Regions from separate parts of the Homo sapiens genome. Here region 1 is linked to region 2. Evidence: fine-mapped expression QTL. A gene starts in region 2. The other region holds a variant in brackets. All regions are shown on one strand. Distances are from middle to middle. Region 1 holds the start of SLC16A8 (solute carrier family 16 member 8). Region 2 holds the start of BAIAP2L2 (BAR/IMD domain containing adaptor protein 2 like 2).

What was found.
Region 1: its variant is fine-mapped to the expression of BAIAP2L2 in gastroesophageal junction (GTEx, PIP 0.93).

What each region holds. Positions count from the first base shown.
Region 1 is chr22:38,070,859-38,085,374 of GRCh38, forward strand. It overlaps SLC16A8 (solute carrier family 16 member 8), which reads right to left and starts at 13,326. Exons shown (of 6, transcript NM_013356.3): 1 at 13,130-13,326; 2 at 12,184-12,503; 3 at 11,802-12,023; 4 at 11,031-11,174; 5 at 9,982-10,821; 6 at 7,279-7,846. The coding sequence starts at 12,015. The coding sequence ends at 7,530. It overlaps BAIAP2L2 (BAR/IMD domain containing adaptor protein 2 like 2), which reads right to left. Exons shown (of 14, transcript NM_025045.6): 14 at 14,042-14,516. The coding sequence ends at 14,442. It overlaps LOC105373027 (a long non-coding RNA gene), which reads left to right and starts at 7,783. Exons shown (of 3, transcript XR_938249.3): 1 at 7,783-7,875; 2 at 7,996-8,089; 3 at 8,755-9,509. It overlaps PICK1 (protein interacting with PRKCA 1), which reads left to right. Exons shown (of 13, transcript NM_012407.4): 7 at 1-33; 8 at 824-886; 9 at 1,619-1,752; 10 at 2,142-2,234; 11 at 2,915-2,965; 12 at 3,449-3,593; 13 at 4,006-4,843. The coding sequence ends at 4,274. RefSeq lists enhancers at 4,102-4,603, 9,688-10,469, 12,810-13,591 and a silencer at 11,785-11,834. The variant G/A (reference allele first, on the strand shown) is at 10,410.
Region 2 is chr22:38,107,225-38,115,794 of GRCh38, forward strand. BAIAP2L2 (BAR/IMD domain containing adaptor protein 2 like 2) reads right to left here and starts at 3,460. Exons shown (of 14, transcript NM_025045.6): 1 at 3,251-3,460; 2 at 1,909-1,984; 3 at 1,031-1,117; 4 at 628-689. The coding sequence starts at 3,301. PLA2G6 (phospholipase A2 group VI) reads right to left here. Exons shown (of 17, transcript NM_003560.4): 14 at 8,303-8,457; 15 at 6,263-6,430; 16 at 5,280-5,353; 17 at 4,271-5,081. The coding sequence ends at 4,937. RefSeq lists enhancers at 7,290-8,192, 7,542-7,721.

The sequences.
Region 1 (14,516 bases), 33 kb before region 2:
AGGAGCTGGAGCGGACCGCTGAGCTATACAAAGGTGGGTGGGGGGTGGCCTCGTCCTGGCACTAGCTCTACCCCAGGGAGCATGCTCTCAGCAGAGTGGCAACAGGGGTGCTGGCACTAGGAATGCCAGCCTACAAAATACTAGGACCATGGGCATTAAGAGTTCTTAAGAATATATACTTCTTCTGAATTTAAAAATAACTCAGGGGCCTGGTGCAGTGGCTCACGCCTGTAATCCCAGCACTTTGGGAGGCTGAGGTGGGCGGATCACTTAAGGTCAGGAGTTTGAGACCAGCCCGGCCAACATGGTGAAACGCCATCTCTACTGAAAATACAAAAATTAGCCAGGCATGATGGTGTGTGCCTATAATCAGTACTCGAGAGGCTGAGGCATGAGAATCGCTTGAACCAGGGAGGCAGAGGTTGCAGTGAGCCAAGATCACACCACCGCACTCTAGTCTGGGCAATAGAGCAAGACCCTATCTCAAAAAAAACAAAACCTGATACTCATAAAAATTCAGAGAATAGCACTTGTAAACATAGCGAGAGTCCCCCGGAATCCCACACTGTCCCAGGGCTAAAGCCCACAGCAGGCTGTGTACCCCTGCATCTTACAAAATGCTGGCGCCCCTGTCTGATGGGGCTCCTCACGGGTTGGGTCGGACTGAGCTTTTACCCCTGGGCTGTGGTTGGGCGGTGGGGAAAGGCCATGTATCAGGGCCTAGCAGAGGCCTTGGGTGGCATGGGCAATTGGAGGCCTTGCCCTGGGCCAGTGTGGTCCCCGCCATGCGTCCCCATTCCGCATCACTCGGTCTCTCCCACAGGGATGACGGAACACACCAAGAACCTCCTACGGGCCTTTTATGAGCTGTCGCAGACTCACCGGGGTAATGGCATCCCCCAAAGCTGTGGTGTGACCGTGGGCAATCCCTGGGGCCTCTCACTCCCATGCTGAGGTGGGTCAGACCCACAGCGCCTGACCTCAGGCTCCCTCTGGGCTGGGCCTGGTCCCAGGTGCTGGGATTTGCGATGGGCCTGCGGGGAACATCTAGATCAGCTGGTCTCTTAAGGGCCGCAACGATGAACAGGCCCCACCCTGTCTCCTCACACTGCCACTGGCAGTACACAAGGCCCTTGCTTATTTATATTTCTGACAACCTGTAACTCTGGGCAGGCCGACTGCAGCTGACCCCAGCTACTGCAGAAAATGAAGCCCAGACAAAGGAGAGGGCCACACTGCTCCCAAGTGGTGGAGCTGTTGTTCCAATCCAGGTGTCTAGACTCGGACCAGTGTTCTGCCTCAGGCGGCGCCACCTCCACAAACCTTGACCCAGTCTTCTCTCACTGGTCCCTCTGGGGAATGAGGGCCAACTCCCTTGGTGTGTACACTCAGGACTCTAGGGGGCACAGACCAGCTCTTGGAGGTGTCAATCCAGTTTCCTCCAGGTGTAGACTCAGCTCCTTCAGGGGGTTTAGACCAGCTCTCTTGGAGGTGTAGCCCCTGTGCAGACATTGGCTTCCAGCCTGCCAGGCCCCCTGCCCTGCTTCTCCCCAACAAACCCCTGGCTTCTCTTAGGGGGCCAAGTAGGGGCAGCCTTCAAGGCAAACTTGTCCTGCAGCCTTTGGGGACGTGTTCTCCGTGATCGGGGTGCGGGAGCCCCAGCCAGCTGCGAGCGAGGCTTTTGTGAAGTTCGCCGATGCCCACCGCAGCATCGAGAAGTTCGGCATTCGGCTTCTGAAAACCATCAAGCCGGTAGGTCCTATTGAGCATGTGTGTGTCTGGCGTGTGAGGGTGGGGAGGGGAGAGTGTGGCATGCAGAGAAGGTCGTATGCTGGAGTCCTGTGCCTGGGTACAGCCTCTGGCTCAGTCACCCACACAGTGGACTGTGGGTGAGTCACTGTGCCCCCTTGGGCCTTGCCATTGACCTCTGGGCTGGCTTCTGACCCTGGCTCGCCACTGAGTCACAGCTTGCCCTAGGCCTGGCACTAGTCTTCTCATCCTTGAGAGGGACAAGGCATCAGGGAGCACCATCTGGCTCTGATAGTCGAGTCCACCAACAAGGGTGACGCATCAGTGCCATTCATTGTCACCCTGGCACACCCCTGCCGTGACAGCCTCAGCATCCACCCACCCTCTTCCAGATGCTGACGGATCTGAACACGTACCTCAACAAAGCCATCCCGGACACTCGCCTCACCATCAAGAAGTACCTGGACGTGAAGTTTGAGTACCTGGTGAGTAGTCCAGGTGCCCAGGCTGCTAGGGCAAGCGCCCACCCTGGAGATCTGCCCCACTTCAGTCAGCCATGCTGCGGCCAGCGAGGCCAGCCAGAGCTGACAGCATGTCTGCTCCAGGTGTGGGCCCAGAGGCCCAGGGAGGTGCAGCCAAAGCCCTGCTGCGCCTGCACAAAGAAGCATCTGAGAGCCTGGGGCGGGCATGGCTCTCGCTGTGTGCACTCTGACCCCTTGGGATTTGTTGCCTTTAAACAATGGGTTAGACTAGGTGAGTGAGCATAAAATGGGTGTCAGTGAACGTTCGTGAGTTTTACATTTAATTATTCTACAGTCAAAGGAATTGAGAGAAAATGCTCTATTAAGCAAGCCAAGGTTCCTTTGCTGCAGGACTTATCAGAGCCTTTGCTAGGCTGATGTGCAGTGTGAATTTTCAAGGGTCTTCCTAAGCTCCTTTAACGACAGACCCCTTTTTCCCCAGAGCATCTCTTGGGCCTTGAGTTTGGTCAACTCGGCCGCCTAAGCCTCAGGCCCTGTCATCCCTCAGCACCTGCCGCTGCCCGCTCTGGGACTCCCTGAACACCTGCGCCAGCCTCTCCTGCTGCGTGTGGGTGATGGGGGTGGAGCTGGGGACCTGGGGTGGGGGTAGTAGCCACTCTGACAGCCTCACCTGTCCCACACAGTCGTACTGCCTGAAGGTGAAGGAGATGGATGACGAGGAATACAGCTGCATTGTGAGTGTTGGAGGGGGTGGGGGGCTTGTACTTCCCCCCACCTGGTCTGCCAGGGATAGCAGGTGGCTCAGGCCAACCCGGGAGAGACCGGGGGGACTTGGCTGGACTCTCGTTCCTGGAGATTTAGGGCCATCTTCCCAGTCCCGCTCGCTGGGCCTCGGGGTGCTGGGCACCCGGCCGGGAACCACTCCCTCAGTCTGGGGGACTCTTGGAGGGAAATCGGATTTTCTTCACTCCTATGAGGCGCTTTTAAGTGTTTGATTTTTCTGCTGTCGGGATCCATTTCGTGGCCAGTGTTCATTGAATGTGGCAGAGGTTTGGGTTTGGTTTTTTCCTCTCTTCAAAGCTATCACTGAGTGCTTCTGAGAAACACTGAAGTCTCAGAAATGAGGTCTCAGGAATGAAGAACAGCCGTGGCTTTGAAAGCACAGTGCGGTGCGAGGCCGTCCCTGAGCAGGCACTCCTGTCCCACCCCCGCCCCAGGCCCTAGGCGAGCCCCTTTACCGGGTGAGCACCGGCAACTATGAGTACCGCCTGATCCTGCGCTGCCGCCAGGAGGCGCGCGCCCGCTTCTCCCAGATGCGCAAGGATGTGCTGGAGAAGATGGAGCTGCTGGACCAGAAGCACGGTGAGCGCCGCCCTCCTCCCCGTCCGCTCTCCATTTCAGAGGTGGGAAAACTGAGGCCCAGAGGGGTACTCTCAGGGCCAGGCCACGGCCCAGATGTAAAGCCCCTCCAGGAGCCCAGCCATCTGCCCAGAGCCTGGCCTGGGTGGAGCTGGCCTGTGCGCGTGGGCTCCGTGGGCTGCCATCCATGATCCATTTACCCTGCAGCCTCCTGCGTTCCCTGAACTGGGAGCGGGGAGGCCCCGGGCTGGGCGGCCCCTGCCTCCGCCCCTTGCCAGGTCATGAGGGGTCAGGGAAGTGCCCGAGTGGGAAGCCCAGGGGAGGCGAGAGGTGGGCCGGGTGGGCTGGGAGAGTCTCCTCCCTGAGGCAGGCAGCCAGAGCCCACTGCAGCCTGTCCCCCGACCTCCCACCCCAGTCCAGGACATCGTGTTCCAGCTGCAGCGCCTCGTGTCCACCATGTCCAAGTACTACAACGACTGCTACGCAGTGCTGCGGGATGCCGACGTCTTCCCCATCGAGGTAGACCTGGCGCACACCACATTGGCCTATGGCCTCAACCAGGAGGAGTTCACAGATGGGGAGGAGGAGGAGGAGGAGGAAGACACGGCAGCTGGGGAGCCGTCCAGGGATACACGAGGGGCTGCTGGGCCCTTGGACAAGGGTGGAAGCTGGTGTGACTCCTGAGTGCCCCGCGGCTGTGGTGCCGGGGGCAGGGTGCGTGGGAGGACGGAGCCTGGGAGCGGGGCGGGGCCGCCGCGCAAGGGGGCGACGCATAAAGGCCTGCTGGCTTGGGGCGCCTGCCTCCCTGCTCCTCTGTCCTCGCACAGCGAACCTGGGCTCCTGCCCAGGACAGGCACCAGGGTCATGGCCTGGGACCTGGACACTGGCCCCTCCACCCTCCCTCCCCTCCCGGCTCCCCGGCCAGAGGGAGAGCTTGGTCTCTGGACCTGCCTTAGGAAGGAGAGGGAGGGCAGGAAGGAAAAGAAAGGACTTGGAGGTGGCAGGAGTCCGAGCCCTGCTCCTTGTGGGCGCTCACACTGCCCCCGGAGCCTGCTGGGAGTGGGGCCAGCCGTGGACAGCTGAGGTTGGGGTCAATGCCTCCTGGGCACCCTTGCCTCGCCCCAGACCGGCCCGTCCAGTCCCCATCACACCTCGGCGGCCTTTATTTATTCTGTTCCCCCAGCTCGGCCACTTCTCTGAAGGAGGGCTGGGTTCTGGGCCTGTATCGAATAAACACAAACCTGGATGGCGCAGTGGTCGCAGTGGCTTCAGACCCTCCTTGTCTGCCCCTCCCCTCCACCGTCTATTGACAGCGCCCTTGCTATGCACCATTTATGCCTCACTGAAGTGTTGCAGGGCTAGCACTGTGGTCCCCTCACAGCTGGTGATTTGAGGCTCAGAGAAAGATCTTGCCCAAGGCCACGCCCTGTGTGGGGACACAGTGGGTTTTAACTCAGATCTGTCCTGAAGGCCTGACTTTGCCACCTGCCTCCAAAGCTTTCTGCTTTGTGGAACCTTTTGTATCTCACCCCCCGCCCCCTTCCCCCGCCCCCAATCTGTGACCTTTCTGTGCTTCCGACAGGAAATAAACCTCTGGGGGAGAGAAGGGCAGACATGGAGCCAGGGCGACTGAGCCCCCAAGTAGGGGAGGGTGGTGAGGGGTAAGTGCTGACTCCAGGCGCGCCTGTGCTGCCCGGGTGGTGGGGAAAGGCGTGTGGGGAGAGGTGCTCGGGGGCTGTGGGAAGAGGGGCGTGGGGAGAGGCCATGGGGAGTGTCTGCAGAGTGGCAGAAACAGGGTGGCCACTTCTCCTGCTTCTCCTGGCCAGCCTCGGCCTGGTGTAATCAGTCATAGTGGCCCTTGTCACTCTAACGTGTTCCTGTTTGGACGATGAATATGGCCATCCTGAGAATGCGAGGGGGCAACAGGGTGTGCGAGGTGGGCTGAGTCCAGGATGGAAAAAGGGTTTCTGCATCAGCTTTGAGCATGCATTGCTGGGCAGAAACCCAAATGGGAGGCTTGGCAGGGGTGGGACATGGAGGAGGGGCTGGCTGTCACCAGGAGCCCACCTGGGTCCCCGCAGAGCCATCAGACAGACCACACTGCCTCCCTGAAGGGGGCAGCCAGAGTGGAGGCCAAGAGCACAGGCTGGAACTGACAGCCTGGGTTCGTTCCTGACCTCCCTGGGCCTCAATTTCCCTATCTGAAGTGTGGCACCTACCTTATTGGCTTGTTAGGAGATTAAATGAACATCTGGAGAGGGCTTAGAACAGGGCTTGGCACAGAGCAAGCACTCTTAAATCTTAAATAAAGTCAGACGGGCCGGGAGCGGTGGCTCACGCCTGTAATCCCAGCACTTTGGGAGGCCAAGGCGGGCGGATCACGAGGTCAGGAGATCGAGACCATCCTGGCTAACACGGTGAAACCTCGTCTCCACTAAAAATACAAAAAATTAGCCAGGCGTGGTGGCGGGGGCCTGTAGTCCCAGCTGCTGGGGAGGCTGAGACAGGAGAATGGTGTGAACCTGGGAGGCAGAGCTTGCAGTGAGCCGAGATTGTGCCACTGCACTCCAGCCTGGGCAACAGAGCGAGACTCCATTTCAAAAAAATAAATAAAAAATAATAATAATAAAGTCAAACGCAGTCACTGCTCTAGTGGTGCAGGGGAAGCCACAGGCCATATAAGTAGAAGCCGGCCAGGCATCTGTGGGGCTCCCCAGACCTTCCTGGGGCCTAGATGGAAAATGAGGGCCAGCAGGGACCAGTGGGGAGGGGTCACTATGGGCCGGGCTGGAAGGTGAGGGGAGTTTGCGGAGGGAAGGCGGCTTCCTCTGCAGGGGCCTGTTCACCACGCTCATGATTCGGAGGGAGGCAAAGAAAGGAGGGGTGTGATGTATGGGAGGAGGATAAATGCATAGAGGGAATACATCGCGTCTTGCCAGATTCGTGCACCTGGATCCAAGTGCAGGAGGTCAGATGTCAAAGTGTGAGGGAGATCGTGGGACGCTCCGTGGGGAGAAGGCAGGTGCTGGGATCAGCAGATGACCTGGCTGCCAGCACAGTGTCCACAGCAAAAGCCCCTGGCCCTGGACACCCAAGTTTATCCTCTAGTGGGAGAGATGCCCTCTGGGAAGGTGAGGGGACATGGCCACCTCGTGGAAGGCAGCAGGGCCCATGGTGTTACTGAGCGCCTGGTCCCACCCTCCCCAGGACCCCAGGGGACGGAGTCGTATGCTCAGCCTCCAGTGAGCAAGGAAGTCAGCGGGGCTGGGATTCAAACCGACCCTGACCCTGGGAACTGTGAGTCTTCTCAGACCGCTCGGGCCCCCCGCCTGCAGGCAGACCCCAACCTTGAACCCTAGTTGCTGCCAACCCCTCGTTCCCTCCACGGGAAAAGGCAGATGCCAGCGAGGGGGCCTTCAGCAGACAGCTCTGAGCAGTGGGGCTGGGCAGGAGCCAGGCACTGTGCCCACCCAGCCCTGTGCCCCTGAGCCCTGTGCCCGCCCAGCCCCTTGTGTCTCTACACCTGGGAACGATGGGTCTCTTCATCCATCTCTGACGCTTCCTCCCAACACTGCCCACCTAGAAGCCTGCTTAGGGGGCCTGGAGAGAGACCTCCCAGACTCCCTCCCACCACCCTGACCCCCAACTCAGGTGGCAGCCGGAGCCTGGGCGGAGGAATAGAACCTTCTGTCGTTCAGCTGAGCTTTATCACCAGTTTCCTGTTGCTCCATAGCAGCTTCACTGGCGATGGGGCAGGGCCTGGCGGAACTTGGGGCACAGATGAGGGAGGCAGTTCCCAGACACCCAGGGGATCAACTGGAGCCCAGACGTGGACCCCGGGAGTGACCACCCCAGACCAGCCTCCCAGCGTACCAGGCTCTCTGAGACAAGAAGCTGTGTTCCCAAGTCACTGGGCCACCCCACCCAGAGCACCCTGAGTTATACAGACTCGGCAGCCAGCCTCGGCCTCGCCTCTATTTCTGGTTCTGTGGGCTCGCCCCGGGCGCTGAGCACCTCCAGGGCCTCCAGGTTGCCGGGTTCCTCTGCAACAACAGGCAGGGGCTCAGAGTCCCCTTCAGCCTCAGCGTCCTCAGTGTCACTGGCTCCGCCCTCAGTGCCTGGGCCTGACGGGGCAGCTTTAGCACAACGCAGGCAGCAGTTGGTGGCGACAGCCATGAAGACCCCAGCCAGGGCCACCTCAGAGCCGGCCAGGTAGAAGATGATCTCATAGTTCTTCAACACATCCACCAGGCGGCCTGGGGAGGAGGAGGAAGAGGAGGGAGAGGTAAGGTCCTGTGGGGTCCTCCCCTCACTCTCCTGCACTCTCAGGTCAAGGGTGGTGCCACTGACTTGGTGAGGCTCCTGGGTGACACACACATGCCCACTCTTTATTCCTGTTTTACAGATGTAAAACCTCATGTGGATTCTGCCATTTGAAACCTTAAAAATGTCACTTGCTGTCCCTGGACCTCAATTGCTTAAGTGATATGTGGCTTCTGGTGAGGCGTCCCCTCCACCCTCTGATTCAAGCCCCACAAGTGTCCTGTGACTTGCTTGGCAGTGGGGTATCTGGGGTGGGAGCGGGGAGGGGGCCCTGGGCTTAGCTCTGCCCTCCTGGGGGCCTCCACCTCTTGCTGTTGCCATGTAAATGCCCTGGTCCTCAGGGGCTTGGCTTAGTCCTCCCACCCCTCTGTCCCAGGAGGCCCATGAGCATCCCAGACCAAGCCATCATCGGCACAGGTGGGGCTTGTGGGCCAGTAACTCATTTCCTTCTCTATTTCTCAAGGCTTCTATCCCTTGTAGATACTACTTTCAAACTCAGGAAAGTCTCTCTTTTATTATGTTTTTTTTAGGGATGGGGTCTTGCTGTGTTGCCCAGGCTGGTCCTGAACTCCTGAGCTCAAGGGATCCTCCCGACTTGGCCTCTCAAAGTGCTGGGATTACAGGTGTGAACCACTGCACCTGGCTTCAGGAATTTTCTTATTCTTTTGAGACAGGGTCTCACTCCATTGGCCCAGGCTGGAATGTAGTGGTGCCATCTTGGCTCACTGCAACCTCCACCTCCTGGGCTCAAGCCATCCTCCCACTTCAGCCTCCTGAGTAGCTGGAACCAGAGGTGCACGCCACCACACCTAGCTAATTTTGTTTTGTTTTGTTTTGGTAGAGACAGGGTTTTGCCATGTTGCCCCGGCTGGTTTCAGACTTCTGGCCTCAGCCCCCCAAAGCGCTGGGATTACATGCATGAGCCACTACACCCGACCAGGAAAATCTCTTAATTGCAAGTATTTCCCCCTAAAGTGTGGTTTGTCTGTGTGCTCCACCCTCTCTCTAGGTCATTCTCCTCACCCCATGCACCTCCTCTGCCCATCAGATCCATCCAGATTCACACAAGAAATGGAAGACGGTTCCTTGAGGCCTGGGCAGGCTGGTTTTGTGGCCTGCCCACACACTGGCTCAGGGACTTTGCCGTTCTCACTGGGTCAGGTGGGATGACAGAGCTCAGTGAGGGCACTCGATTAGCCCAGCCCTGAAGGAAGGACGAGCAGCTCACCCCATCTCAGTGCAGCCTGCGGCCCCCGCAAGGTGTCCTCCCTGGTTACTGCACCATCTCACAGCCCTCTAGCCTCTGGGACTCAAAGGCAGGCTCCCTTGCTGTTTCAAGATAACTTGACAACCCAGGAAAACCCTCATGTCCCCCACTCCCACCTTTCCAATTTTGGTTCCTGCCTTGCTTGCATAAGGACGCTGTTCCCCCCCAACAAGCCCTGCCCATCCATGCTGTGCCTTCACCTGGGGGATATTCCAGGAAGCCTTCCCTGACCACCCTCATGACGATGACTTCCTAAGGGTGACGGTGACAAGTGCCAGCAGGCCATCTGCACAGTGAAAGACACCAGTGCTTCTCCCCATCTGCCCGCTGAGCACCCCCACTCTGTTTCTGGCCCCAACACCAGTTTCCCAAAGATACTGTCCCCATTCCAGTCACCATTCTAGATGCACCATTCTAAAGGCGTGGGCATTTAGCAGCAGGTACACTGAGGCTCTCATTCTGGGGCTGCAACTTGCGCTAAGGCTTTGTGCCTCAGTTTCCTCATCTGCAAAATGAGAATAAGCACCTGCGCTCCAGATGGCCTTGTGCCAACTGCTTGGGATGGCAGATCTGGCCAGCTACCAGTGTTGCTTTCTTCCCTGCACCTTCCTGGGCTTTTCTGTCCTCACCCAGAGCGGGCGGTCCGGCTTGGAGGAGGGACTAACTGGCCGTGAAGGGGAGTCCACCCACCCGACTGCCCCTTCCCCTCATCCCTGGAAGTTCCATCTGAGACAGGGGGATGGAGCTTCCCTGGGTCTAAGGGGCACTAGGCTCGCCACCCCCTCTTCCTTCGGGGCGCACCGGCAGAGGGCGGTCCGATGAGCACAGCCGCGGCCTCCACGAGCAACACCAGGCCCAGCGCACTGGGGAAGCGGGGCGCGCCCACAGCCGCCATGAGCACCTCGAACTGCAGCGCGCCCACCATGCCGTAGGAGAGGCCGAAGGCGACGCAGAAGGCGACGAGGGCGCCGTAGGAGCGCGCGCGTGCGCTGCTCAGGTCTGTGAGCCCATTGGCCAGCAGGGCCAGGCTGAACAGATACGGGACGTGCGGCCGCAGACGCGCCAGGCCCGCCAGGGCGCCGCACGCCGGGCGCGCCACGATGTCCACGAAGCCCACGATGGACAGCAGGAAGGCGGCGTCGGTGTCGGGCACGCCCGCGTCCTTGGCGTAGTTCACCAGCAGGATGGCGGGGACGAAGAGCCCGAGCGCCATCAGGAACTTGGTGACG[G/A]CGTACACGGCGAAGGCGCGGTCGGTGCACACTGCCAAGTCCAGCAGGCGCCGGCGGGGCCGGACCCTGGGGGATGCCTCGCGCAGCTGCAGCCCCGCACCGTCAGCCTCCGCCTCGCCCGGAGCGTCCCCGGCGCGGTCGCCGGCGCTGTCCCTGCGCGGTCGCGGGCCCGGCCCGGGCGGCGGCCTCATGACAGCCCCGCAGGCGCAGCAGTGCAGCAGGAGCCCGCCGAGCAGCAGGAAGCCGCCGCGCCAGCCGAAGCGCTCCAGCAGCTGCTGGCCGAGCGGCGACAGCGCGGACAGGAACACGGGGCTGCCCGCCGCCGCCAGCCCGTTGGCCAGAGGCCGCCGCCGCTCGAAGTACAGCCCCAGCATGATGAGCGACGGCTGGAAGTTGAGGGCCAGGCCCAGGCCTGCGGGCGAGGCGGTGCTGTGCCGGGGTCCCCGGAGAGCCCCTCCCTGGCCCCCACAGGAGGGAGGGGCCAGGCCCGGGAACCCAGCAGATCCGGGAACCCAGCCGAGGGACTTCGAAGACTGTCCCTCATAGGGAAACCGAGGACAGATCTTGCAGCAAGAACCCCCGACCCCCAACCCAGCGGAGAGGAGACCAGGGGGCCCTCACCTGTGAGCACCCCAGCGGTCAGGTAGAGCTCCAGGAGGCGCGTGGCAAAGGAAGCTAGGATCATGCCCGCGGAAGCCAGCAGCCCACCCGCCAGCATCACCGGGCGACAGCCAAAGCGGGTCACGAGGATGCTGGACACGGGGCCTGTGGGCAGGGCAGGGTCACCACCCGGGTCCCGGGATGGCTTGAGTCCTCTAAGGAATAAGGTCACCTCCGGCTCAGGGACACAGAGAGGAGGGCAGTGTCTGGCCAAGGTCACACAGCTTGGAGGGGACAGGCCAAAGAGACAGCATCCTGCGAGGGCAAGGCCCAGAGCACCCCATCCTGCGAACCCAAACCCCAAGCGGAGCGGGGGCTTCCGCACCCCTTTAACCTTCACAGCCTCCAAGTCCCGCCCTGGCACAGACTGGGATTCCTCCGCAGCCCCGCCTCCCAGGATGGGAACTCCAGCAAGCCCCCACCTACAGGTCAGGGCTGCGGGGAGGGGGAGTGCTTCTGTGGCTCTCAGCTTTCCTGCCTCTACAATGGGCGGGTGTGGTCTTAGAAGGGGCCCTCTGAGCTCGCAGGGCAGCCCCCTGGGCCGGCCCCGCCTCTGGCCGCTGTCTCCCTCCCGCCCTCTCTTCCCCTCTTTCTGGTGCCAGGGTTCCCACAGGCAGGAAGGGACTTCGGGGGCCACCCCGAGGGTCAGGGGGATGCTCAGGGGCTCGGGTGTCTCCTGGTTCCGGATCCCAGGGGTCCCGGGGAGGCGGAGGGCCGGGCGGGGACACTGACCCGTGCCGTAGAGCATGGCTAGCATGATGGAGGACACCCAGGCCGTGTCGCTGTAGCCGGCGTCGAAGTCGCGCATGAGCGCGCGGAAGAAGACGCTCACGGCTTTGGGGAAGCCGTAGGCGAAGCCGGTGACCACAAAGCAGGCGCCCAGCACCACCCAGCCCCAGCCGCCGTCTGGGGGGCCCTCGCCCCGCCGGGGGCCGCCAGCGCCCATCGCTGCCTCTGTTGGGAGGGGGCGGGGACAAGAGGGAGGGGCTGGGCCAGCAGCCTAGAGAAGGAGGGGGATGGAGACGAAGCATGGGGAAACTGAGGCACAGGGCTACCCACGTGAGGGTGGCTCAGGTCTGGGAACCAAAAGGGGAAACGGAGGTAGGACTCTCACCCCAAGTCTCCTTCTCCTGCAAAGGGCGCTGAAGGACGAGGGGAGGACGACGGGTCCCACCTGACTCTGCACCTCTGCAGGCTCCCTCTGAAGGACAACTGCTGGCCCCTCAGGGCCTCAGGTGGAAGGCGTCGGGAAGTGGAGCAGGTATGTGCCTGGAGGTGGGCGTCCAGCACCAAAGTCGCCCCGTACGCGTGAGGGTCTCGGGACAACAGAACAAACAGCAGAGGGGCAGATGCCGGCTGCAAAGGGCCGCTGTGCGTGATTTTCCTCTTTAGCCTTCCGCCATGTTCCTAATGTTTCTCAGTGATCACAAATGACTATTGTCATTAGAACATTAAGGGGACAAAAGCCACTTTCAACAGATATCAGCCAGGGGAGCTGAGTTCCCATGCATCTCAGCTCAGCCATGGATTCCCTCCCTGACTTGGGCCGGTCGCCTCCCCTCTCCCAACCTCCCTTTCCTCCGATGTAAGATGGGTGATTGATCACCCCGAGGCCAGCTGGGAATCTTGCGGGAGAGGAGTCAGGTCTCTGGCTTCTGCCAGACAGGTAGGAACCTTAGCAGCACTGAGAGAGTGGCCTTCTGCCCTCCAAACCTCAAACCCTCTATATGAAAAGAATGGCTCCAAAGCCTGTCTCATTCCTGGGGCTCCACCCGGGGCCCTCACAGCAGTTACAAGCGCCCCCATAACAGATGAGGAGGGTGTACTCAGAGACAGGTGCACCAGGAGCCGGGGGCTGGGGATAGCCTCCTGCCCTCCTGCCTGGAGTGTCCCTCCTGGCACTGGGCAGTGCCACCACCCCCAGGGTATCCGGGACTCTGCCCCTCCTCCACTAGGACCAGGTTGTGGCTTTTCCTGCCTGTTGTCCTCTTGTCACAGGGGCAGCCACTTGAAGGTGGAGACAGGAGGGTGATCCCAGGCAGCCCTCACATCACACTCACCTGAGCCTGCCTCGTGGGTTTGGGGGTCCAGCCTCACATCTCCTGAGGCCTGCAGGGAGGGGCCGCCGCCGCAGCTCCCGGTGAAGCTTACCCGGATGGGGGCTGCCAGACACCCCAGCTTCCCACCAGCCTGGGCTGAGCCTCTGGCCGACTCCCGCCTGACGCTCCCTGCCCCAGGCCTGGAGCTTAGAGTGTGTGCCCCCACCACACCTCACCCCTGCTAAGAGGCTTTTGTCCAGGAGGGGAGAAGAGACTGGGAGCCCCAGGCCAGGCTGGGCCTCGGCGGTGGGCTCCCTGTCCCAAGCCAGTCCAGGAGGGAGGAAGAGAATCCCTGTGCCTCCTGGAGCCTGGGGTGGTAGACACAGAGACCTTGCCCAGGGGGTCCTAGTCTGGTGCTGGGGGCACAGCCCTGCCCTGAAGAGACCCCAACGGTTCTAATCACCTCAGTGCCTCATCTGCCCCCGCCCCAACCCCCCGCCCCAGGCCACATTCCAGGAGGGGCTGGCAGCTTTCTCTAGAATGAAGCTAATCCACGCCTGTGCCTGGGAATGTGGGGGGGGGAGGGGCCAAAACAAAGGGTGCTGTGTCCAGGCCGCCTGAGGGCAGCTTGCTGGTGGTCCCAGCCCTTGGCCACTGCCACCTCTCCCCTGACCCGAGCAGCCGCTACTTCCTAGGAAACCCACAGGTCGAAATGAGAGCAGGTGGAGATGGGGGCTGCAGCGCGAGGGCTTTGGGGCAGCCCTAAAGAGTTCTCCAAACAAACAAACAAGGGGCTGGGAGTGAGATGGCTTCCCGGGGAACAGCCAGGACCTCAGTACCCCCTAGACCCCATTCTCCAATGGGGGAGTCTCTATCCCTCACCCCCTGCCCTGTCCCCCAAATAAGACACCACCAGTCCTGCTGCCGCATCACTTTGCGTCCACTTCCTTTATTTCTCATCATTTACAAAAGATGTACAGAGAGGGCATGTGTTGGGCACGGAGCAGGTACAAGGGGCTCCTCCCCACGGGGGCAGAAAAGGGGGAAAGAGGTTAGGGGGCAAGAGGTGGGCCCCCCAGGGAGAGTCCTGGAGCCCCTGGAGGGGGAGAAATTGTCCTGTCCCCCCATTCCGCCTGCTTTACTTTGAAGGTCTCGGACCCCAAGCCAGTGCTTTGGAGCTGCTCAGGCTGCCGGGGTGGTCTGGGGAGGGCAGCCACCCCCCGTCTCAGGGACCCGCTTCTTGGATCTGCTGCTGTTGCTGCTGTCGCTGCCATTGCCAGCTCTGAACAGCCCCTGGGCAGGTGCACTGTGGGGTACGACCTCGGACCCCGCCTCAGCGGATGAGGGGTGCTGAGCGGTCATTGGTGATGGTGGGACGAAGCTTGACAGTGGCAAAAGGATTTGTGCC
Region 2 (8,570 bases):
CAGGGAGTCAGAGGAGGCTTTGGGAAGGAGGGGACAGCTGCTTCCCAACTGGACGGCAGGGGGAGGGACCGGTGGCTCTAGGCTGAGAGGACAGCAGGACAGCAGCCCCGCAGCGGGGACACCAGCAGAGGGCCCACTCTTCCGGGGGGCTGGGCTGTGTTGGGGGTGTCAGGAGAAGCTGCTGGATCGACAGAGCCAGGGACCCCTCACTGAGAAGCCTGTGTTCAGTTCTACGGGCAGTGGGGCCGTGGAACGGTTCTGCTCCTGGGAGTGACATGGTCAGGTCCATGTGGCTGCTCCCTGGGAGGCTGCAGTGAGGAGGGCTGCAGTGAAAGGACCTTTCTCTTCCTTGGGCCTCCATTCACTCTGGCATCTCAGGCAATGACTAGCTCTTTGAGACTCAGTTTCTTCCTCTATAAAATGGAGGCAGAAATGCCACCAGCCTCCTAGGGCTGCTAGAGGCTTGAACGACTATTGCAGGGAACCGTGCCCCACAGAGCCGGGTGCTGGGAAGGGCAGCCACGGTCATCCTCCCTGGGAAGGGCATCTGGTAGGCTGGGCCCTCTCCTTGGAACATAGCCCACTTTCCTCGAGTGACCCCTCCAGGCCCTGGGGCCTGATACTCACCACCACCTCCAGGTCAGAGTTCAAGTGCCGCTGGGTGTCAGACATCTGCACCAAGATCTCCCCTGGAGGCATGGATGCAGCTGTGGCTTTGGTGTGTGGCAGCCTGCCCCGCCCACCCACCACCCTCTTCCGCTGAAAGCCAACAGAGGGCCTGCCCGAGACTGGATTTTGGGACCAAAGTCCGGGAACTTCCCATATGGTTCTCTGGGAGCCAGGCCATGTGTGTCCCAGCCTGGGAGCAGCCCGGCAGGGAGTGGTGGCGGGGAGCCTGGGCCCCAGAACAAGAGTCTGGCTCTGGGCCCTGGGCTGAAAGGCCTGTGTCAGGGACTCGGGACATCCTGGAAGGGCAAGGGTGCAAAAGGAGGGCCCAAGAATGGGGTCTGCTGTGGAGGGGGAGCCTCACCCAGAATCTGTGAGGTGGGGCTCTGCAGGGCACGCTCCCCAATCTTCTGGATGGCACTGAAGTAGACCTCGGCCGCCTCGGACAGAGCTGTGGACCAGAAGGGACAGGTCTGGTCCAGCCCTGCCTCTGCCCCACCCTTCTGGAGGCTCTTTTCATCTGGAGGGGACTGTGTCTGTCCTGGGTGGGGTGTGGGCATCTGTGTGTGCCCCTGAGGAGGGTGTGACCAGTTGAGCTGTGAAACTCAGGTGCAGGGGCATAAGGTGAGGGCTGGGGGCAGGGAGGTGGCGTGGAAAGCATCTAAGAAGCAGGGGGATGGGAGGCCCTGAGGTTCAGGGTTGATCAGCACTGGTGGGTAGTGGGGTGCTATTGGCAGGTATGAGCGGCCACAGCGGACGGGTACAAGGGTTTGCACGGGGACCGAGTGAATGTCAAGGCCAGCTGCAGGGTGTGTGGGTGGTGGCCAGTTGAAGTGAGGAAGCCAGCTGCTGTGTGAGCCTGGGTGCAGAGGTGGGACTGAGTATAGGGGTGGGTTCAGCTGGTGGCATCCAGGTGACGCCTAGAAATGTATGCACTGTCAGGGGCTGCCCTGGGGCTGTGTGGGCCTGCAGGGCCTGGTACTGCATCATGGGAGTGTCTGGAGGCACCTGAAGGAGGGGGCAATGAGGGGTGCTGGGTGTGGACTGGGGTGCGTGGGCACAGGAGAGTGGGGGTGCATAAGGCCTCTCTGGCTGCAGAGGTGTGAGGGTGAGGGTGGTGGGTAGGAGGGTGTAGGGTTGAGGATGAACAGGTGTGGGATGCAGAGAATCTGGGAGGGGCCTGGGTGGGTGGGAACAGCAGAGGCCCAGGGCTGGGGCTCGGTGGCCCGGGCAGGCACTCACCGTGGAAGGCACGCAGGTAGTTGTTGCCCAGGTACACCAGGTTCTCCAGGGCGGGGTTAAACTGCTCCATGATGCTCTGGACCCCAGGGTCAGGGGAGGAAAAAGGTGTAGAGATGGGGGAGCGAGAAGGAACCACGGATGGAGTCAAGTCACCAGGCGTCAGGGACAGGGCACCCCCAGCCCAGTGAGAAGCCCCAGACTTTGGGGGGCCCATCTACAAACCTAGGCTCACCCAGAATCCTGGCTCTTGGCTGCAGGGACCTCAGAGCCCATCTTTTGGGGTCCTGTTCTAAGCTGTGGTCCCCTCACAGCCAGCTCCCGCTTACGTCTGCTCTGGCGGGACCGAGGTGCCTCCCGAGATGGTGCACCTGGAAGGTTCTCCTCCTCCCGCTGGGCAGAAGCTGGCCCGCCTGCTGTGGTCCCCACTGGGCACGGCTCAGCCCTGCCCTGTGTCCAGGCCTTGCCGGGCTACACGCCTGGGGCTGCCAACAGTCACCCCCGGGGCAAGGGCAGCTCTCGCCCTCCTCCGAGAACAGCCCCCCATGGGCAAGGCTGTGGCTGGATTAGTGTGGGCCTCCTCGGGCTGGGGCCGGGCAGAGAGCTCCCCGGATGGTGAAGACGGGCCTGGACTTGGGCCTGGACTTGGACTTGGGTCTCGGTTCAAATCCCAGCAGCACCTCTTCCTCCCTCCGTGACCTTGAATGAGCTGTTTAACCTCTTTGGTCTCAGTTTTCTCATCTATCAAGCAGGGTGGTCATTTTCCACCTCACAGGTGGGTGGTGTGAGGCCTCCAGGTGAAAGGGTCCTGCACACAGGAGGCGCTCAATAAATGTCTGTGGCGGCTGCAACAACCCCCCGGGGGTGAAGTAGGAAGTCTGAGGGGCTCAGAAATGAGAGAGACAGAGACAGGGAGAGACAGAGAGAGAGAGAGAGACAGAGAGAGAGAGAGACAGAGAGAGAGAGAGACAGAGAGAGGGAGAGAGAGAGGGAGAGAGAGAGAGAGAGAGAGAGAGAGAGGGAGAGACAGAGAGAGAGAGGGAGGGTCTTTCTTTATTCCCAGGCCGGGCAGCCAGGCCCTTCTCATCCAGACTCAACTCTCCCCACCCTGGGCCTTGGGCTCCCTCCTGCCTTGTCCAGCATCTGGGAGTTGGGGGTTCCCGCTGTATGGCTGAGTGCTCTCGGGGATCCTTACCCCCGTACCCACCCCTGGCCCAGCCTGGCTCCAGGCTTCCCTTTCCAGGACATCTGTAGCCCCGGCTGGCCCTCCGTCCTCCAGAGCGGGCCTGATTTCTGTGCCCTGGGAGGAGGGGCTCAGGCCTGGCTTGGCCACCCATGTGCTCACCTTGTAGATGGCCATGGTGGACCTGTAGAACTGGTCCATCTCGGGGGCCATGGAGGGGCTGTCCCGGGTCTGAGCAGGAGGCTGGGAGCTGGTGGCGATGGCACAGCCGGGAGCAGTGGTAGGTAGTCCCTCAGGTGCCCACGACTCAGCTGGCAGCGAGGAAGCCTCGGAGAGGGACCTGGAGATGGAGGCCTGCCTCAGAGGAGTGGCAGCTTAATTATTCACCAACTCGGGATGTCAGAATGTGATCTGGGGCGTAACCAGATCCGGCAGGGAAGGCATCCTGTGCCGGGCAGGCTCGTGTGACCTGCCCTTCAATTATTCACCCCTTGGAGCTGTGGGCTGATACAAGTGCCCATGTGGATGAGCCCCCTCCTGGGTCACCCCCTCCTCAAGGACCCCAACCCTGGGGGGCCCCGCCCTCCCACCTGCCTATACCAGGCATTGCCCACCTTACTGGGCGGGCGCTGCCCGATGCCCTCCCCCAGGACTCTCTCTGCCAGACCCAGCAGCAGCAGCCCCTGGAGGGGAACGCCGCTTTACTTCTCACTGTCCTCAGGCCTGCGGCTCACAGTGGGGCCACGCCCTCTGAGCTTGGCTCCCACAGCCGCTCTGGCCCGCCCAGCTCCTCCACTTGCCGGAGCAGGAGCAGCACAAACGCTGGAGTTGCCCAGCCCTGGGCAGACCTCGGCCCTGCACACGCGCTGCCTGTCCACGCGGAGTCCCCGGCCTCTCTGGGTGACAAATGGGGCTCTCCCTGGTCCTCCAAGATGAAGTTGAAGATTGTGGCCCTCCTTGGGCCTGCCGGGGGTATGTGGGCCTGGCAGCTGCCTCTGCATACCCTAAGGGCCGGTTTAGGGGAGGCCTAGAGGAAAGAGGAGGTGTCCCTGCCCAGGGATCCTGGAAAACAGAGTGTCCGGGTACAAAGGAAAAGTCCGGTCAAGGCCAAGGGTCAAGGCCGAGGGGAGCCGGGGGTCAGGGGAACAGGTGGATCTCACACCACTGCACACACAACACAGGTGAACTTGAATCCAAATGATTTATTTCAGTTTTGGCTCTTAAGCCACTTCCATTGGGAAGAAGAAACTCCCAGGAGTGACCTTTGAGAGCTGAGGGTTCTCGGGGTGGGGCAGTGTGAGGGGCTGGGCCAGTGTGAGGGGCAAAGTCCAACGGGCATCCCACTCCTGCGGCCTGGGCTTTCCCAGCTGATGGGGTGGGGGACACCCATTTCTTTAGTCCCAGCCCCCAGGGAACGGAGCAGAGGGCAGAGGGAGTGGGCTGCACCCACCAGGAAGCCTGGGAGTGCCCTTGCTGGGGGCTGGGGCAGAGGCAGCCCGGCAGGCCCTCAGGGAGGCTGGGGCTGGGGGCAGGGGTACGGTTGTGCCCGGGTACCCTTAATGTTTGAGCTGATGGGGGAGTCAGTTGTCCTTGACAGTCAGGGAAAGGGGCCAAAGGGGGCTCTAGACTTTCCCAGCCTGGAATGACAGAAAGTGCTGGAAGGCGGGGTTAGTGGGAGACAGGCCTTCAGGACCAGCCTCGGGCAGGCAGCTTGGCATTCTCCCAGGCCTGGTCTATGGACTCAGAGGTGCCTGGGCCCAGATCTGCCCGGGAGGGCAGTGGCTGGGCTTGGCCTGGCAGGGGCTGAATGGACGAGGTCAGCTGGGGCCGGTGAGAGGCTGGGGACCCTCAGGGTGAGAGCAGCAGCTGGATGAGCTTCTGGAACTCCTCGCGGTGCTCATAGATGTAGACCTCGGTCTCCCAGAGGGCGTTGACCAGCACTGTGTCACTGACCTCATCCAGCATGATGTCCGTCCCCAGCTGGGGGTTCAATCTGTTCGGGCCAGGGAGGAGGGGGTCACCCTAGGATGCTCAGGCTGGGCAGGGGACGCCAGCTAGGACCAGGGTGGGCTTGGGGAACAGAGCAGACCCTTGGGGAAGGGAAAGTCCACACTAGGGCTGGGAGGGGAAGGTCGGTGAGTCCGACCACGCCAGGGCACGGGGCCAAGGGCTGGGGCGGCTGAGCCCTCACCTGAAGTACTGGATGCCGACCATCTCGCACCAGGCCCGTGCCCGGTCCACAGCCCGCCCGTCTGGATCCGTGCACTGGTGAGAAGCAGCCTTGGTGAGTGCCGGGCCCACACCCCGCCCGGCCCGCACCCCGCCCGGCCCTGCCCTGCACTCTCGGAGCCCCAGCCTGGGGAGCCCCAGGCTCTTTCGAGTCAGGCTGAGCCACACAGCAGCAGAGCGGCTCGGGCAAAACCCCTTCCTGGGACTGCAGGGACTGTCCCAGCTGTGCAATCAGAGGGGCAGAGGTCTCAGCAGTGCCCTTTCAGGGATGATGAGTGGGGGAAAGGGTAGCGGCTGAGTCGACAGGCCTCCATGTCCCCTCTCCCTGAAGTTTCCCTCCCTCCCTCCTCTCTCTCTCTCTCTCTCTTTCTTTCTTTCTTTTTGAGACAAGGTCTCCTTCTGTTGCTCAGGCTGGAGTGCAGTGGCATGATCACAGCTCACTGCAGCCTCTGCCTCTTGGGCTTAAGCAATCCTCCCACCTCAGCCTCCTGAGTAGCTGGGACCACAGGCACACACCACCATGTCCAGCTAGTTTTTAATTTTTTGGTAGAGACAAAGTCTCATTATATTGCTCAGGCTGGTCTCAAACTGCTGTGCTCAAGTGGTCCGCCTGCCTTGGCCTCCCAAAGTGCTGGGATTACAGGGTGAGCGCCCAGCCCGCTCTGGAGCCTTTGTCCATTCTGGGCTTCTACACTGCGCTATGTTTGCAGAAAGGGATCCGCAGCTAAAAAGCGTTTGAAAACCCCCCTGCTGGTGGTCACTGAGGGTCCCTGCCCCGCACTGAGACTCTGAACTGTGGACTCTCTCTCCCTCCAGCTGGCTAAAGGCGATGGACAGAGCCCTGCTGTCTCCTCCAACACCAAAGGCCCCACAGGATGAGGGGAAGCCATCGACCTGGGCTACAGACCCTGAGGGAAGTGGCCTGGGGGAGGGGCCCACACTCACACAGTCCACCACCATCTTGCCCAGTTCCTTGGCCCCAAAAACAGTCTTGGCCAGCTCCCAGGGGTTGCTGGGACGGAAGACATCCACACAGGTCACAGGCACTTGTGGGGACCTCCCTGTCCCCAGGGAGACAACGATGGAGAGTTTCTTCACCTTGTTGGCCTGACCCTGTTGGGAACAGGACAGGGGCAGTCAGAAGAGACCTTCCACAGGTAGGGGGCACGAAGGGGAGCGTCAAGGGGAGGCCCAAGACTGGGCTCTGGGGCACATGAGAACAGGGCAAGAGGTCTCTGGTGGCAAGAGCATGCCTGGCATGATTTCCAGCCAGCCTCTTGCACGTGACCCCAGAACGGCTGGTGCGGGCATCACATGCCATCTGCTCAGGACAGCATCTGTGTACCAACAGGACCACACATACACCAGCTGCAAGAAGGATCCCGCCCACCCCATCTGATGCTGGCCCAAGTCAAGTCGTGGCCAGGGGAGGAAAGGCAGACGGTGTTCCTTGGTGTTGGTGATTTGCCAGGTATTTGCATCATTACTTCATTTAATCTCCAGCCAGTCTGTGGAGAGGGCACTGATCACCCAGTTTGCAAATGAGGGCTCTCAGCGAAGCTCAGGCCGGGAAGCAGCTGCAGGGGCCACGTGGTAGGGAAGTAGGGGCTAAGGCTTGAACCTGAGCCCTGGGTGCTGCCTTTTTTTTTTTTTTTTTGAGACGGAGTCTCGCTCTGTCTCCCAGTCTGGAGTGCAGTGGCGCGATCTCGGCTCACTGCAAGCTCCGCCTCCTGGGTTCACACCATTCTCCTGCCTCAGCATCCCGAGTAGCTGGGACTACAGGCTCCTGCCACTATGCCCGCCTGGCTAATTTTTTTGTATTTTTAGTAGAGACAGGGTTTCACCGTGTTAGCCAGGATGGTCTCGATCTCCTGACCTCATGATCCACTTGCCTCGGCCTCCCAAAGTGCTGGGATTACAGGCGTGAGCCGCTGCGCCCGGCCGCTGCCTCTCTTATTTGCTTCCGAACAAGCTCTGCTGCCGATTTGCTGGATGATCTTGGGTGATGCCTCCCACTCTGGGTCCCAGGCTCCCCATCCGCACGCAATAGGAGAGTTAGACTGGCTAGTGTCTGACAGTCTGACGGTCTCTGCCGCCTGCAGGAAGCCCGCCCTGCCCGATCTGGCCCCTAGAGGGCGCTTCTCTGTCTGCCCAGAGCCTCTGCTGCGCTGCCCAGGACGCCCTGGGGCTTCGGGAAACCACAGCAGCAAGGATGCAGCTCAGGCTCCCGGCAGTGCTGTGAACATTTCACAGACAACAGCATGCCAAGGCCTCGCAGCCTCCCCAGGCAGGCGCTATGATGGCCCCATTAGGTAGCTGCAGTGAGTGCAGGCAGAACGGGGACCCCCAGAGGCGCCCTGGCTCCAGGGTCTGAGCTCAGCCACCGCGCTCGCCCACCCCGGTCACCCACCGCCCGCCACGCCACAGGGCCTCCCCTAGCATGCTGGGTCCTGCCAGCCTCTGCTGTACCTCTGCAGAGAGAGGGCTGCTGCTCTTCCTCCAGATCACTGATTCTGCACTGCTCTGTCCCCAAGGGCCTCAGGATGGGTCCCCTGTTCCATGGAGCCCTTTCCGAGCCCCCAGGCCTTTTAGCAGAGGCCTCACGGTCCTCCACCACAGCACCGGCAACCCGTGGGGACAGGCATTCCTGTGGGACTGTCTATCCACAGAGGTGAGCTCAAGGGCAAGCATGTGTCCTGTCCCCAGGCTGGCTCGAGTGGCACGTTCATGGTATGCATGCCGCCCTCCCCACTCATGCACACTTAGAGCACAGTGGTCCTCAGATCCCCCTTAGCACAGTGCTTCAGGCAGATCCCACCCATGGAACAGGTTCCAGTGAGATCAATTTGCCCTGTGTGCACATATGAATGAGTGCGTGTGTAAAAGCCACCTGCTGTCCTGGGGGTCGGTCCCTAGCATGGTTTGCTGACACAGGATTGGCTCCAGGGAGCAGTGGGTCCAGGCCCTCTGGCCTACGGCACTCACCTTGCGGATCAGGTCCTGATTGTACTCATGGATCTCGGTCATGGCATCCAGCGTGGGGTTGTTGGCCAGCAGCCCACCGTCCAGGAAGCGCCCATTGGGTCGGAAGTAAGTAGGAGCTGCCCCGCTGCTTCGGGCCGCCCGCCACACCAGCTGGTCTAGGGGCGGGGAAGGAGGGCGGCCCAGTGGCACAAGGGACTGGCATAAAACCCATGCACTCCAGATCTCAGGGTGTGCGTGTTGGGGGCTGGGGGTGCGGGAAGAGGGGAGG